Regions from separate parts of the Homo sapiens genome. Here all the other regions are linked to region 3. The links come from fine-mapping of genetic effects on gene expression. A gene starts in region 3. Each other region holds a variant in brackets. All regions are shown on one strand. Distances are between the middles of the regions.

Region 1 (4,244 bases), 31 kb before region 3:
TGAAATTTCTAAAATCAATAAAAGTGTTAGTTGAAAAGCGAAGTCTCAAAATTACATATACACATAGTTTATTAAATAGTTAATATAGGCAAATTAAGATTTAAAATGGAATAAAATTTAAAGTAATATGTAGGCATTAGTACTGTGTGATTCTTGTATTAATCTGTGTGCAAACAAATGCTTATATAGCATTTACTTTTTAATTCATTCAAAATGAAGTTAAACACGTTAGAAAGAGTTGTTACTACAGGGTATTCAAAAATGGGAAAGTATCTACCCTAGAACTTTGTTTTTTTACTTTTTTTTTCAAGAGTAGAGACAGGGTTTCACCATGTTGCTCAGGCTGGTCTCAAACTCCTGGGCTCAAGCCATTCTCCCACGTCAGCCTCCCAAAGTGCTGGGATTACATGAGCCACCATGCCTGGCCTAACCTACAACTTTGAAAAGAATGCTCTCAGGTAGCCATTTACCTCCTGTTAGATAAAAGGGCTGGGGAGAGTGTTTGCAAGACGTTTGTTCTTCAGATTCTAAAAATATGTCCTTTAGTCAAGGTTGGGGTATTCACTCTTCTTGGAAGATTAATAATTAGGCTGTACCTAGTTACCATAAAAATATTCTGATCAGCTGTTTTTATTCATTGCATTCAATTAATTGATATGCATTCAAAATACTTATCAATTAATCACTACATGCCAGGCAATATTTTAGTTGCTGACCTCCTTGAGCTGATATTCTTACCAAATAGCTTTATCTATTTATGATGTTTATCACATTATAAATATGTCATAATGATATTATGACATTAATATGTGAGATAATAGGAATAGAGTCAAGGGTCAGTGGCCAGTGGTGTTCTCTTGGCAAGGCTAGACAGGGAAGTCCTTGCTAATAAAATGGCACTGGAGCAGAAACCTAAAGGAAGAGAATGAGCCATGTTGACATCTGGGGAAAAAGCATGCTAGACAGAGGAAACTGCAAGTGCACGGCCCTGAGGCATGAGTCTGCCTGAGGAGCATCAAGATCAGTATGGCAAAAGCACAGTGGGCATGGGAGATGGGGAGAAAAAGGGCCTGAGGGTGAGATGAAAGTAGCAGTGGAGTGGTGGAGTAGTGAGCCATCAGAGCCAATTGGCCTACTGGTTCCATCATTTGACCTATGAGCAGCACTTGATGTCAATAGTCCCTCCCTTCCTCCTTGCAGCATTTCACTTTACTTCCTAGTTTCCCTCTGTCTCACTTGTCTGTCCCTTTGCTGGCTTCATCTCTGGAGATAGAGTGACTCAGAGCTCAGTCCTTGGACCTCTTTTTATCTACTTAATCCTGTGTTTCAAGAAGTCTCAAACTTTTTAATATAAACCAATGAAAATGATGATTCTCCTGCAATGATTGGTGTTATTGCTGGACATGTTATAAAATTTAAATTCAAAACCAAAATATTTTGTAAGAATATAATGCATCTGAGTGTTACAGTTACCAGGAATGATCTCTCCTTAAAATAAAACATGAAGAGCACTATGAATGTATCAGTATAAACAAAATATGGCCCCATTGCTTAATCCCTACACAGTTCTATGCACTCCTTAATCAATTGGCTAAACAAGTTGTAGCAGCAGTTGACTTAGTCCTGCCAAATGTTGAAAGGATTTTTTGAAATGTCAATTTTAAAAACATCCAATTTTTTTAAAACCTCCCTTGGACAACCAGGAAGATTGGATGAAAGACTTGGTTTTTTGATTGACATTGTAACTCATCACATTTTGACCATACCCTTTCATGGGTATTCATAAGTGGTTATATAAACACATTGTGTAATCCACTCATTCCTAGTGAAATTGTTTCTTGAGGGAAATCAACTGGCAAATAATTTGACCCATTTTGCTACACTGAAGTCAGTTTCCAAAAATAGAAATCATGGTATGAAGTACATTTGTGAGGCTGAGGACTAAATTTCAAAAAATTATCTGATTTCAAACTTTATGAAAATGAGTTAAGACTATTCTTTTTACCATCTAACTTAATACTGACAGTGTGGAAAAATTGCTACAAGAAGTTACTAAACAGTTGTTAAAGGAGATCACAAAAAAGAAACAAAGTTATTTTAGAAGAGCAGAATTTTATAAATATCTTAAGAGTGGTTAGCCTAGATATGAAAATCATTGTGCAAAGATTGTATCCATATTTGGAAGTACCTATACTTATTATCAGCTGTTTTCACTATGTATAAAAATAAATCTCTCTCCTACGTAAAGGATTGAAGGCTCA[A/G]CTCTGTGTTGTAAACTGAATAAGAAACACAAGACCTGACAGTGATAGCTTGGTGAGGAAGAAAATGTGTGAGGTTTTAGCTTCAAATAGAAGAAATAACAAGTTTAAAAAAGACAATGTCGTTTAACAGGGAAGCATTTCTGTGTCTTTCCAGATAACGACAATCACTCTTAGCCTTGGGAGAGATTCGGATCTGTTACAGAAGCCACGTGAGAGTGAGAGGAAGATAATATTCCAACTCTGACATTCTTTAAGCTTGACAGCAAGGCTTACAATCCAGTCACTGGTGGGAGGGAAAGGGTTTCCTGTTTTCAGACCTGGAAATTCAGATGGTGGAGCTCATGTAAAGAAGATGCTCCAGCTGGGATGCCAGGTGATGAGGCCAGAAGGGGGTGGTGGTGACAGAAACCTGCCCCTCCTTGTTCTGGTGCTATGGGAAAATCAGGGAGAGAGAATCAGGAGGGACAGAAAAAACCCTAGGCCAATCCAATAACAATGTGTCGTGCTCGAGCCTCTGAGCCATGGTGTGGAGAGTGGGAAGCTAGATAACTTGGAGACAGAGTGGCTTTCCCTGCTTACAGTTTGAGATTCTGGAGGAGACGAGGCTCCATGTCAATGTAGGGTGAACCAGCCCAGCCAAGACAGCTGCTGGGTGTGACCAGGAAGAGAGTAGCTCTGATTTAAACTCCAAGCCTCTTTGTTTCAGATTGAAAGGCAGAGGGTTTATCATTGCCCCTGCCATTGGGAGGAGTGGGTTGCCCCACAGCAGACATTGGAGGGAGACCGACTGGCTCTGTGGGACTACATGGACTTGGAAGAGATTTTGGTCAATAGCCAGGCAATAGCTAAGGGTAGGCCTGATTAGCATGAGATGCCAGTCTCTCCCACACCCTGTCCCCCTCCCCCAACACTTACTGTTTTGTAGAGAAGAGGCCATGCGTGCATCACCTGAAAGGCAGGAGTAGATGCCAGCAGAAAGCCCAGGGACACCATCAGCCAATTATACTCCAGCAGACGTAACACCAGATACTGTGCTGCTTGGGATAGCAATGATGGAAGAATGGATGTTATATGACTTCTCCTGGCTCAAAGTCACTTGAGCATTTTCCTCAAAAATCTGATATTTAATCATTGTTATTGGATTGGCCTAAGGTTTGAAATGGATTGAATATTAAATATTTTTCCCTTGCTGAAACCCAAAGGTTGGAGTCTTGGGGGAAACACCTGCTCTCTTATATCAGTTTTAAAAAGAAATGACACTTTTCTGTATGTATATAGGTTGTGTAAAAAAAATAATCCTTGGCTGGGTGCGGTGGCTCACACCTGTAATCCCAGCACTTTGTGGGGCCGAGGTGGGCAGATCACCTGAGGTCAGAAGTTCGAGACCAGCCTGACCAACATGGTGAAATCCTGTCTCTACTAAAAAAAAAAAAAAAAGAAAAAAAAAAAGAAAAAAAAAAATTAGCAGGGCATGGTGGTGCATAACTGTAATCCCAGCTACTTGGGAGGTTGTGGCAGGAGAATCAATCACTTGAACCCAGGAGATGGAGGTTGCAGTGAGCCGAGATCACGCCATTGCACTCCAGCCTGGGCAACAAGAGCAAAACTGCGTCAAAACAAACAAAACAAAAAAACCACAACCTCTCACAGCATTCAGGATAACTAAATATTTAATTTTTCAATCTGTGTTCCATTTCACTGGCAAAATAAAATTTGCTATGTTATATAAATATGTGTGAGATTATGTGCTCGTGCCATAGTTCCATAAAAATAAGGCAAGTCTGGTTATGCCTTTCGTCAGGTGATTTTTCTTTCATCGAGTCTGTTTTATTCCTGTTTGTCACTGCCTTGGCCTCTGGAGGCATTTGGGGTTTATGCATTTCTGCATTTAAGGAAATCAAATACCTCGTCAGGAACTCCTTGACATTGTGAAGGGAATAAGAAGGGAGGAGAGCAAAGAAAATTCACACACAAAACTCACCC
Region 2 (4,244 bases), 27 kb after region 3:
TTTGTACTTTTGTGGCTATTCAAAAGAGTACTAATAAGGCTGGGCGCGGTGGCTCACGTCTGTAATCCCAGCACTTTGGGAGGCCGGGGTGGGTGGATCACGAGGTCAGGAGATCGAGACCATCCTGGCTAACACGGTGAAACGCCGTCTCTACTAAAAATACAAAAAATTAGCCGGGCACGGTGGTGGGCGCCTGTAGTCCCAGCTACTCTGGAGGCTGAGGCAGGAGAATGGCGTGAACCCGGGAGGCGGAGCTTGCAGTGAGCCGAGATTGTGCCACTGCACTCCAGCCTGGGCGACAGAACGAGACTCCGCCTCAAAAAACAAACAAAAAAAGAGTACTAATAATGTAAAATAAATATGCCCAAATTAAAGGTGATTTTATTAGTTGAAAATCTTACCTTGAGTTAAATTTTATCCAGTATGTACTGAGCCAAATTTCTATGTGAGATTTTAGCAGTGTTCAGTTATAAAAAGGCTCCTTTTTAAAATACTCTTCACTTTTACTGGGTCTTTAATTAGATGGTACGCAGATCATAAAACCACTATGTATGACATTAACAGGTGTCTTTTGAGCACAAAACTGTAGTAGAAATAATACTAGAAGCTAGAGCAAAAATTCCTCATGACCACTAGATATAAAACTAAAATTTGGAATGATTTATTTAAGTTATACCTCTGTTTATGATCTTTTAAATATTATTTAGTGTAATTTTGTAAACTTTCCCATAAATGTGATGTTTAGACATGGGAGAAAGGTAGCTCTTTTTTATCCTTTTTCGAGTACCTTTTTTTGACAACTTAGAATGTCATAGCCTTCTGGAGAACGTCTGATCTTAAATACTCAGCAAATTCTAGAATGGGAATGAGAGCCCAGGTTCTTTGAACTCTGTAGTATTTTTTTGTTGTTGTTATGTTTCTGAAGTCAGGATTCTCTTGGCATTGGGTGTCTTTTCTTTAAAAAAATTTCTTCAAGTTACAACTAATTGATGATCTGTCTTAACAAGAAGTTTTAGTGCCTTCAGTTGAATAATATTTTAGAACTGAAAGCAACCTTAGATTTGGACTTATGTATGTGGAAATTTGACTGGGCCAGGGCTAGCATTGCGTATCAGTGGGGAAGAGGAGTTTTTATCAGTAAATGGTACTGGGACAGTTATCTGTTTGGAAAAAAAAATTAGATCCCTACTGCAGACCCAAAAATCTACTCCAGGTAGATTAAATGTGAGAGTCAAACTATAAAACTCTTAGAATATAATATAGGGAAAAACCCTTATGACTTTAGAGTAGGGAAGGGTTTTTAAACAGGATATAAAAAGCATGAACCATAAAAACAGTTGGTAAAAGCCAATGAAATAAAAATAAGAAACTTCGTTTATCAAAAGACACTATAATGAAAATGATAACTACAACAGGGAGAAGATATTTGAAACACATGTAATTGGAACACGTAATTAGGCCATTCATGCATTGACATAAAGAAATACCTGAGACTGGGTAATTTATAAAGAAAAAAGATTTAGTCTGTGTGCTGTGGCTCACACCTGTAATCCCAACAATTTGGGAGGTGAAGGCGGGCAGATCACTTAAGGTCAGAAGTTCAAGACCAGCCTGGCCAACATGGTGAAACCCTGTCTCTACTTAAAATACAAAAATTAGCCAGGCGTGGCCAGGCGCGGTGGCTCACGCCTGTAATCCCAGCACTTTGGGAGGCTGAGGCGGGTGGATCA[C/T]GAGGTCAGGAGATGGAGACCATCCTGGCTAACATGGTGAAACCCCGTCTCTACTAAAAATACAAGAAATTATCCAGGCGTGGTGGCGGGTGCCTGTAGTCCCAGCTACTCAGGAGGCTGAGACGGGAGAATGGCATGAACCCAGGAGGCGGAGCTTGCAGTGAGCTGAGACCACACCACTGCACTCTAGCCTGGGTGACAGAGTGAGACTCCGTCCCAAAAGAGAAAAAAAAAAAATTAGCCAGGCGTGGTGGTGGGTGTCTGTAATCTCAGTTACTCGGGAGGCTGAGGCAGGAGAATTGCTTGAACCCCAGGGGGACAGAGATAGCAGTAAGCTGAGATCGCACCACTGTAATCCAGCCTAGGAGACAGAGTGAGACCCCGTCTCAAAAAAAAAAAAAAAAAAAAAAAAAGAAAAGAAAAAAGATTTAATTGGCTCATGGGCAAGCTTTACAGGAAGCATGGTGCCATCATCTGCTAGGTTTTTGGTGAAGCCTTAGGGAACTTTCAATCATGGCAGAAGGCAAAGGGGAAATAGGCATGTCACATGTTGAAAGCAGGAGCAAGGGAGAGGGAGTGAGGGGAAGGTGCCACACACTTTTTTTTTTCTTCGACTTTTAAGCTCAGGGATACACGTACAGGGTGTGCAGGTTTATTACCTAGGTGAATGTGTGCCATGGTGGTTTACTGCACAGATTATTCCATTATCCAGCTATTAAGCCCAGCATCCATTAGCTATTCTTCCTGATGTTCTCCCTCCTCCCACCCTCCACTCTTTAGTAGGCCCCATTGTGTGTTGTTTCCCACCCTGTGTCCATGTGTTCTCATCATTCACCTCCCACTTATAAGTGAGAACATGCAGTGTTTGGTTTTCTGTTCCTGCATTAGTTTGCTGAGGATAATGGCTTCCAACTCCATCCATGTCCCTTCAAAGGACATGTTCTTGTTCCTTTTCATGGCTGCAGAGTATTCCATGGTATATATATACCCCATTTTCTTTTTCCAGTCTATCATTGATGGGCATTTAGGTTGACTCCATGTCTTTGCTAAGCCACACACTTTTAAATTACTAAGTCTCACGAGAACTCATGCACTATTTGGAAGATAGCACCAAGCCATGAGGTATCCCCACCCCCATGATTAAAATACTTCCCACCAGGCCCCACCTCCAGCATTTGTGGATTACAATTCAACATGAGTTTCAGGTGGGGACAAATACCCAAACTGTGTAATTCTTCCCCTGACCTGTCCCAAATCTCATGTCCTTTTCACATTGCAAGATACAATCATGCCTTCCCAATAATTCTCCAAAGTCTTAACTCATTCCAGCATTACCTGAGAAGTCCAAAGTCTCACCTGAGACAAGGCAAGTCTCTTCTATTTATGAGCCTGTAAAATCAAAAGTTATTTACTTCTAAGAAACAATGGGGGTATAGGCATTGGGTAGACATCCCTGTTTCAAAACAAAGGGTCTGTAGGCCCAACACAAGTTCAAAACCCATTAGGGCAGTCAGTAAGTCTCAAAGCTCCAAAGTAATCTTTGACTCTGTGTCCATATCCTGGGCACACTGATGCCAAGGGTGGGCTCCCAAGACCTTTGGCAGCTCCACCCCTCTGGCTTTGGAGGGTACATTCTCTGAGGCTGCTCTCACAGGCTGGAGTTGGTAGATATACTATGTTTGGGTCTAGAGGATGGTGGCCCTCTTCTCACAGCTCTACTAGGCAGTGTCCCAAGTGGGGACTCTGTGTGGGACCTCCCATCCCACATTTATTCTCTGCACTGCCCTAGTAGAAGTTCTCTTGTAAGGGATTTGCCGCTGCAGCAGGCTTCTGCCTGGATACCCAGGCTTTTCCATGCATCCTCTGAAATCTAGGTGGAGGCTGCCAAGAATCCACCACTCTTGCACTCTGTGTACCCACAGGCTTAACACCGTGTGAGAGCTGTCAAGGCTTATGGCTTGCATCCTCCAAAATGGCAGCTCAAGCTGTATGTGGGGTCCTTTGAGCCATGGCTGGAGCCAGAGCAGTGGGAATATGGATAGCACTGTCCCAAGGCCATGCAGGGCAGCAGGGCCCTGGGACTAACCCATGAGATCATTCTTCTCTCTTAGGCCTCTGGGCCTGTGATAAGAGGGGCTGCCATGAAGGTCTCTGAAATGCATTTGAGGCCTTTTCTCCATTGTCTTGGATATTAGAACTTGTTTTTTTGTTTGTTTGTTTTTTGTTTTTTGAGATGGAGTCTTGCTGTGTCACCCAAGCTGGAGTGTAGTGGTGTGATTTCAGCTCACTGCAACCTCCACCTCCTGGGTTCAAGCAGTTCTCCTGCCTCAGCCTCCCAAGTAGCTGGGACTACAGGCGCGTGTCACCACGCCCGGCTAATTTTTTTTGTATTTTTAGTGGAGATGGGGTTTTGCCATGTTAGCCAGCCTGGTCTCAAGCTCCTGACCTCAGGTGATTCACCAGCCTCAGCCTCCCAAAGTACTGGGATTACAGGTGTGAGCCACCGTGCCCAGC
Region 3 (4,240 bases):
GCAGCAGTTCAAAAAAGTTGTTTTGACTCTCATTTTTTTCCTTCTCAGCATCCACAGAGTTCGCTTCTGTGTGAGAAACTCTTAAATTATTGTTTCTCTTGGAGTTTTTATGCATAGCTTAATGTTTTAAGTTATCCTCATATGTAACCTAAAAGGCAAAATTTAAACATGCTCAGTCTCCAAATAGGAGTATAAATCCTACTTTAAGTCAGATGCTTTTTGGGTATAATTTAAGAACTCTTTCTTGACTTTAGCTTCTCAATCTGTAAAATGGGCCAATGCTGCCGCTCTCCTGAAAGTTCTTGCAAGGATTAACAGTGATAGTGGGTAAAATATCTAGTCTTGCTACATCTGAATTGCACATGGGAGGCACCCAACATGTTAGTTTCACTCTCACCCAGGCTGGAGTGCAGATGTGTCATAATAGCTCACTGCAGCCTCAAACTCCAGCCTCAAGCGATTCTCTTGACTCAGCGTACCCCGCCCCTCTTTAAAAAAAAAAAAAAGAAAAAAAAAAAAACAGAAAACCAAAAACTGTTTTACGGAGAAATGGTTCTTGCTATGTTGTCCAGGCTGGTCTTGAACTCTTGTCCTCAAGCAATCCTTCTGCCTCAGCCTCCCAGAGTGCTGGGATGACAGGTATGAGCCACCATACCCGGTACTTTTGTACCTTTGAAAATGTATATGAGTCAATCCTATTAAACTCCTGAATACTTGTTGTACATGGGAACTGATGCCTCATCATTAATTTGCAATTTGTGACTTAATCATAAACTTGCTGGACTTCTAGTTGTTTATATAAGAATTTTATCTACTTGTATCTTATAGGTAGGTAGGTGCTTACATTTGACACAACTACTATCTGAAATGGACAAGAAGATGAGATCTGGATTATGAAACAAAGTCTCAAATATTCAACTCAGTCATAAGAGTAGTGTTTTAGAAATGGCCCCTTGAAGCTATCCTACATGCATAATTACAAGCTAAGGATAATAGTCACTGAAGACATCAAGCAACAGTGAGTGACAACTGTAAACAATGTTTAGAACTCAGCTAGGTACAGTATGTGACTCTTTGAAGCCCAGATTTAAAGCTCAGTTTCAGCTAATTTACCTAAGGTGAATGGTGTAGGCTTCCCAAATCAGTTGAAAGCATGACTGGGTACATCACCATCCTTGAGTTACTTTTGTATATAAAGACAGCTTGTATTCACTTAAAATCAGTTTATTCCATTTTGCACTTCCTTTTATAACGGGGGTTGGTTGTGCAAGAGGAGAGGTTTGAGGTAAATACTTCTTTTAACTCAGCTGAACACAAATCTCTTTTCTAGACGAGCTACTCAGCTATGTTTTCGGACTTGCCAAGACCACGGTGGCTCCCATTCATGATCCAGATTAGCTGTGGTGGCTGGAACTGCAGTCTGTGTTCAACAGAGGTCTTCTTCTTGAGGGTTAGGAGAAGTAAGAAAGCAAACGTAAAAACGGGTGAGTCAAGAGCAAGTTTTTGCCATGCACCTTGGCCCCTCCCACCACCAATACAAACCAAAGCCAAACCACAACGTTCTTGAAAAGAATCTCACATTAGGAAAACGTTACAGTGCATTTAAACGTTACAGTGTGTTTATCCACTTCTCCCAGGATCTTACTGGGAGAATAAAATGCGTCCCCTTGTGGAATTCCTGTAACGGGAATGAAGGCTTTTGAATTTCACAGCAGGGGATACCTTTGCGAGTTTCTAAAATCCCACTAGGAATCTTTCTTCTACGTCCAGGTTCGCCTGGATGCCTGGAAACGACCCCTCTTCTGCCCTTTCTCCTTTATGAACTGAGCTTTCCTGAATTCTCTCTCAAGTGAAGTAAAAGCTCGTCCCCCTTTCAACTATCATTCGGAGGGATAGATCGGCGGCAGCGCAGTCGGAGGGGCGGGGAGCCCCACTCCGTCCAAATCCCGCGGGTCAGGGCTAATCACCCCACGTCCCGTCTGAGCCACCCTCCTTGTGTCCCGCGCGGGTTGCAGCTGCTGGAACCCAAGAACACAGGGCACTGACAAGTGACAACAACCGTCAGCGTTGACTGTCACTGCGGCTCCAGGCCGCGGAGGGAAGGCTGAGCTTGCGTCCAGGCCGCGTCCCCGGGAGCGTAGACACCTAAGCCAACGGGAACGGAAGACCCTTCTACCTACTAGGCCGCGGTAGCTTCTCCTCCCGCGATTTAAATCCACCGGAATTCGAATCCTTCCCCATAGCTCTTCGCATCCCGCCCACCTGAGTCCCGCCCTGCTCAGAACTCGCGCAGGCGCCGAGAGGGGCGCGCAGTGCCTTTGGGGATTGGTAGTTTTTTCCAGGGCGTCTCCGCTCGGGAAAGGAAGTGAAGAAAGCCACCAGGACTACAAGGCCCGGCGTCCTCCAAGATGGGAGGGAGGTGAAAAGGGTGTTGGGGAATAAGCCGGGGTTTTTAAACAGTAGTTTTGAGGCGGCGAGACTGGGGAATCCCCGGTTGCGTCATTAGTAGGCGTGGAGGGGCGGGACTCGTGAAGCTGCGCTGGGGCCGGGCTCTGAGAGGACCGGCGCAGCCGCGGGGAGCCTTTGAGGCCCTCCCTCGGTGTTTTTTCCCAGGGCGTGGGCTTGCCCCGCGCGTGTCTGTGGAGGGCGGAAACAGCGGAGGGGCCAGTCTCCTGGCGAAGGGGCCTAATCCTTGCCCGCCATGTCCGGGGGCTTCGAGCTGCAGCCGCGGGACGGCGGTCCCCGGGTGGCCCTGGCGCCCGGGGAGACGGTGATCGGCCGCGGGCCGCTGCTGGGAGTAAGTGTGGGCGGGGGCTTAGCGGACCCCGAGAGCCGTGGAGTTCCGCGCCGGCTCCTGAAGACCGGCCCTAGTCCTGGCCGGTTTCCCCACCGCACTGGTCCGCCGGTCCGGATTTTAGAAGTTTGGGGCCGCACGTTTTTCAGTTACCTTTAAGCCAATTCACAAACATTTCTTTATGTTGCTTTTAAAACACTGACTGTATTACCATTATTATCTTATCCAGGGATTGGCAAACTAGTGCCTGGGGGCCAAATCCAGCCTATGTTTGTATGGCCCCATGAACTAAGAATGATTCTTAAATTCTGAAATGTAAAATGTAAACAAAAAATCTACTAATTTTTCAGGGGGAATAGTTGCTCCAAGGGTTGAGGGTATTGCGGCTTGTCTTGTAAAGCCTAAAATATTTACAGTAGTGTCTGGTCCTTTACAGAAAAGTTTGCCAAACTGTGATATTACGTCTTCTAGGCTAATTTCTTTTAACCTTTGGTCTCCTTTGCAGAGCTGTGTGGACCTTATTTATTTATATTATTTATTATTTCCAGTAAAATGAGTAGCTAACCCTTCATAAGTAATGTGTATAGCGTTCGTGTCATTGGTCTAAGGAGACATTACCTATACCAACATCTTTAACTGTCTCAAGACCGTATCAGTTAGCTATTTTTATTATCCTCATTGTTCAGATGAGAAAATTGAGCCATACATACATTATTTAAAGTCCATACATAAGCTTTTGGACACATAATGCCACAAAGCTAAATATTCTCTACCTTCTTTGGGAGAGGTTTAGGAATAAGAACATTTGCATATTGCATTCTGGAATTCTATAGATCTCTTAAGTACATCTAGTTTTCTATTTTGTTCTTTAACATTCAACATTTCTTGTTTGGTGCTCACTGTGTAGAACATTTTGCAGATTCTAGCACTGTGGGGCATACAAAGATGAATGGAACATGGGTCCCTACCCTTTAGGAGTTTTCTCTTGGGACCGGGGAGACACCTGTGTCAGTGAGCTAACACCAAGGAGTAAGGAGTGTGTACTGTTGTCCTGGTTAACTTCCAGAGTCTAAATGGAACCATTGGTACTTGCCTTAGGTCCCTTCTGGGAGCAGGGAAAGGAGTGGTAGTTTAAGATTGTATTATGGAAGCTGGTCCTAAAGGGGTGTGTGTGTGTGTGTGTGTGTGTGTGTGTGTTGTGTGTTGTGTGTTGTGTACATGCACATGTGCATGTGGTAAGGTTATTGAGGAAGTAGATATTCAATTGCTGTTCATTTTTTTACTGGACAAGTGATTATTTAAATATTTAACATCATTTCTATTTTTTTCATCGTTTGTTGGCCTATACAAACACTGGAAGGAACTGTCTGGAGGCTTTATTTTTCTTTTAAATTCGTAGGTTTGAAACTTAAGAGTATGTGCTTAATCTAGTAATCATATGTCTGG

Which allele goes with the higher level. Alleles are on the strand shown, and positions count from the first base shown. SD is a standard deviation of normalised expression in the study named. Not every link is listed here.
For the expression in thyroid of the gene that starts at base 2,264 in region 3, allele G in region 1 goes with a higher level than allele A (large effect, 0.88 SD a copy in GTEx).

Evidence for each region. PIP is the estimated chance that this variant, and not a neighbour inherited with it, causes the effect.
Region 1: its variant is the best candidate, but not a certain one, in a credible set for the expression of FBXO48 in thyroid (GTEx, PIP 0.62).
Region 2: its variant is the best candidate, but not a certain one, in a credible set for the expression of FBXO48 in whole blood (TOPMed, PIP 0.82).

The regions. Positions count from the first base shown.
Region 1 is chr2:68,433,973-68,438,216 of GRCh38, forward strand. No RefSeq gene overlaps it. Among named protein-coding and RNA genes, the nearest start is that of FBXO48, 31 kb to the right of the region's middle. The variant A/G (reference allele first, on the strand shown) is at 2,262.
Region 2 is chr2:68,492,160-68,496,403 of GRCh38, forward strand. The region is part of intron 2 of APLF (aprataxin and PNKP like factor); the gene reads left to right. Among named protein-coding and RNA genes, the nearest start is that of APLF, 27 kb to the left of the region's middle. The variant C/T (reference allele first, on the strand shown) is at 1,731.
Region 3 is chr2:68,465,031-68,469,270 of GRCh38, forward strand. FBXO48 (F-box protein 48) reads right to left here and starts at 2,264. Exons shown (of 4, transcript NM_001024680.3): 1 at 2,181-2,264; 2 at 1,114-1,440; 3 at 1-148. The coding sequence starts at 115. It overlaps APLF (aprataxin and PNKP like factor), which reads left to right and starts at 2,555. Exons shown (of 10, transcript NM_173545.3): 1 at 2,555-2,797. The coding sequence starts at 2,702. RefSeq lists enhancers at 1,345-1,404, 1,498-2,393, 2,394-3,288 and a silencer at 2,630-2,839.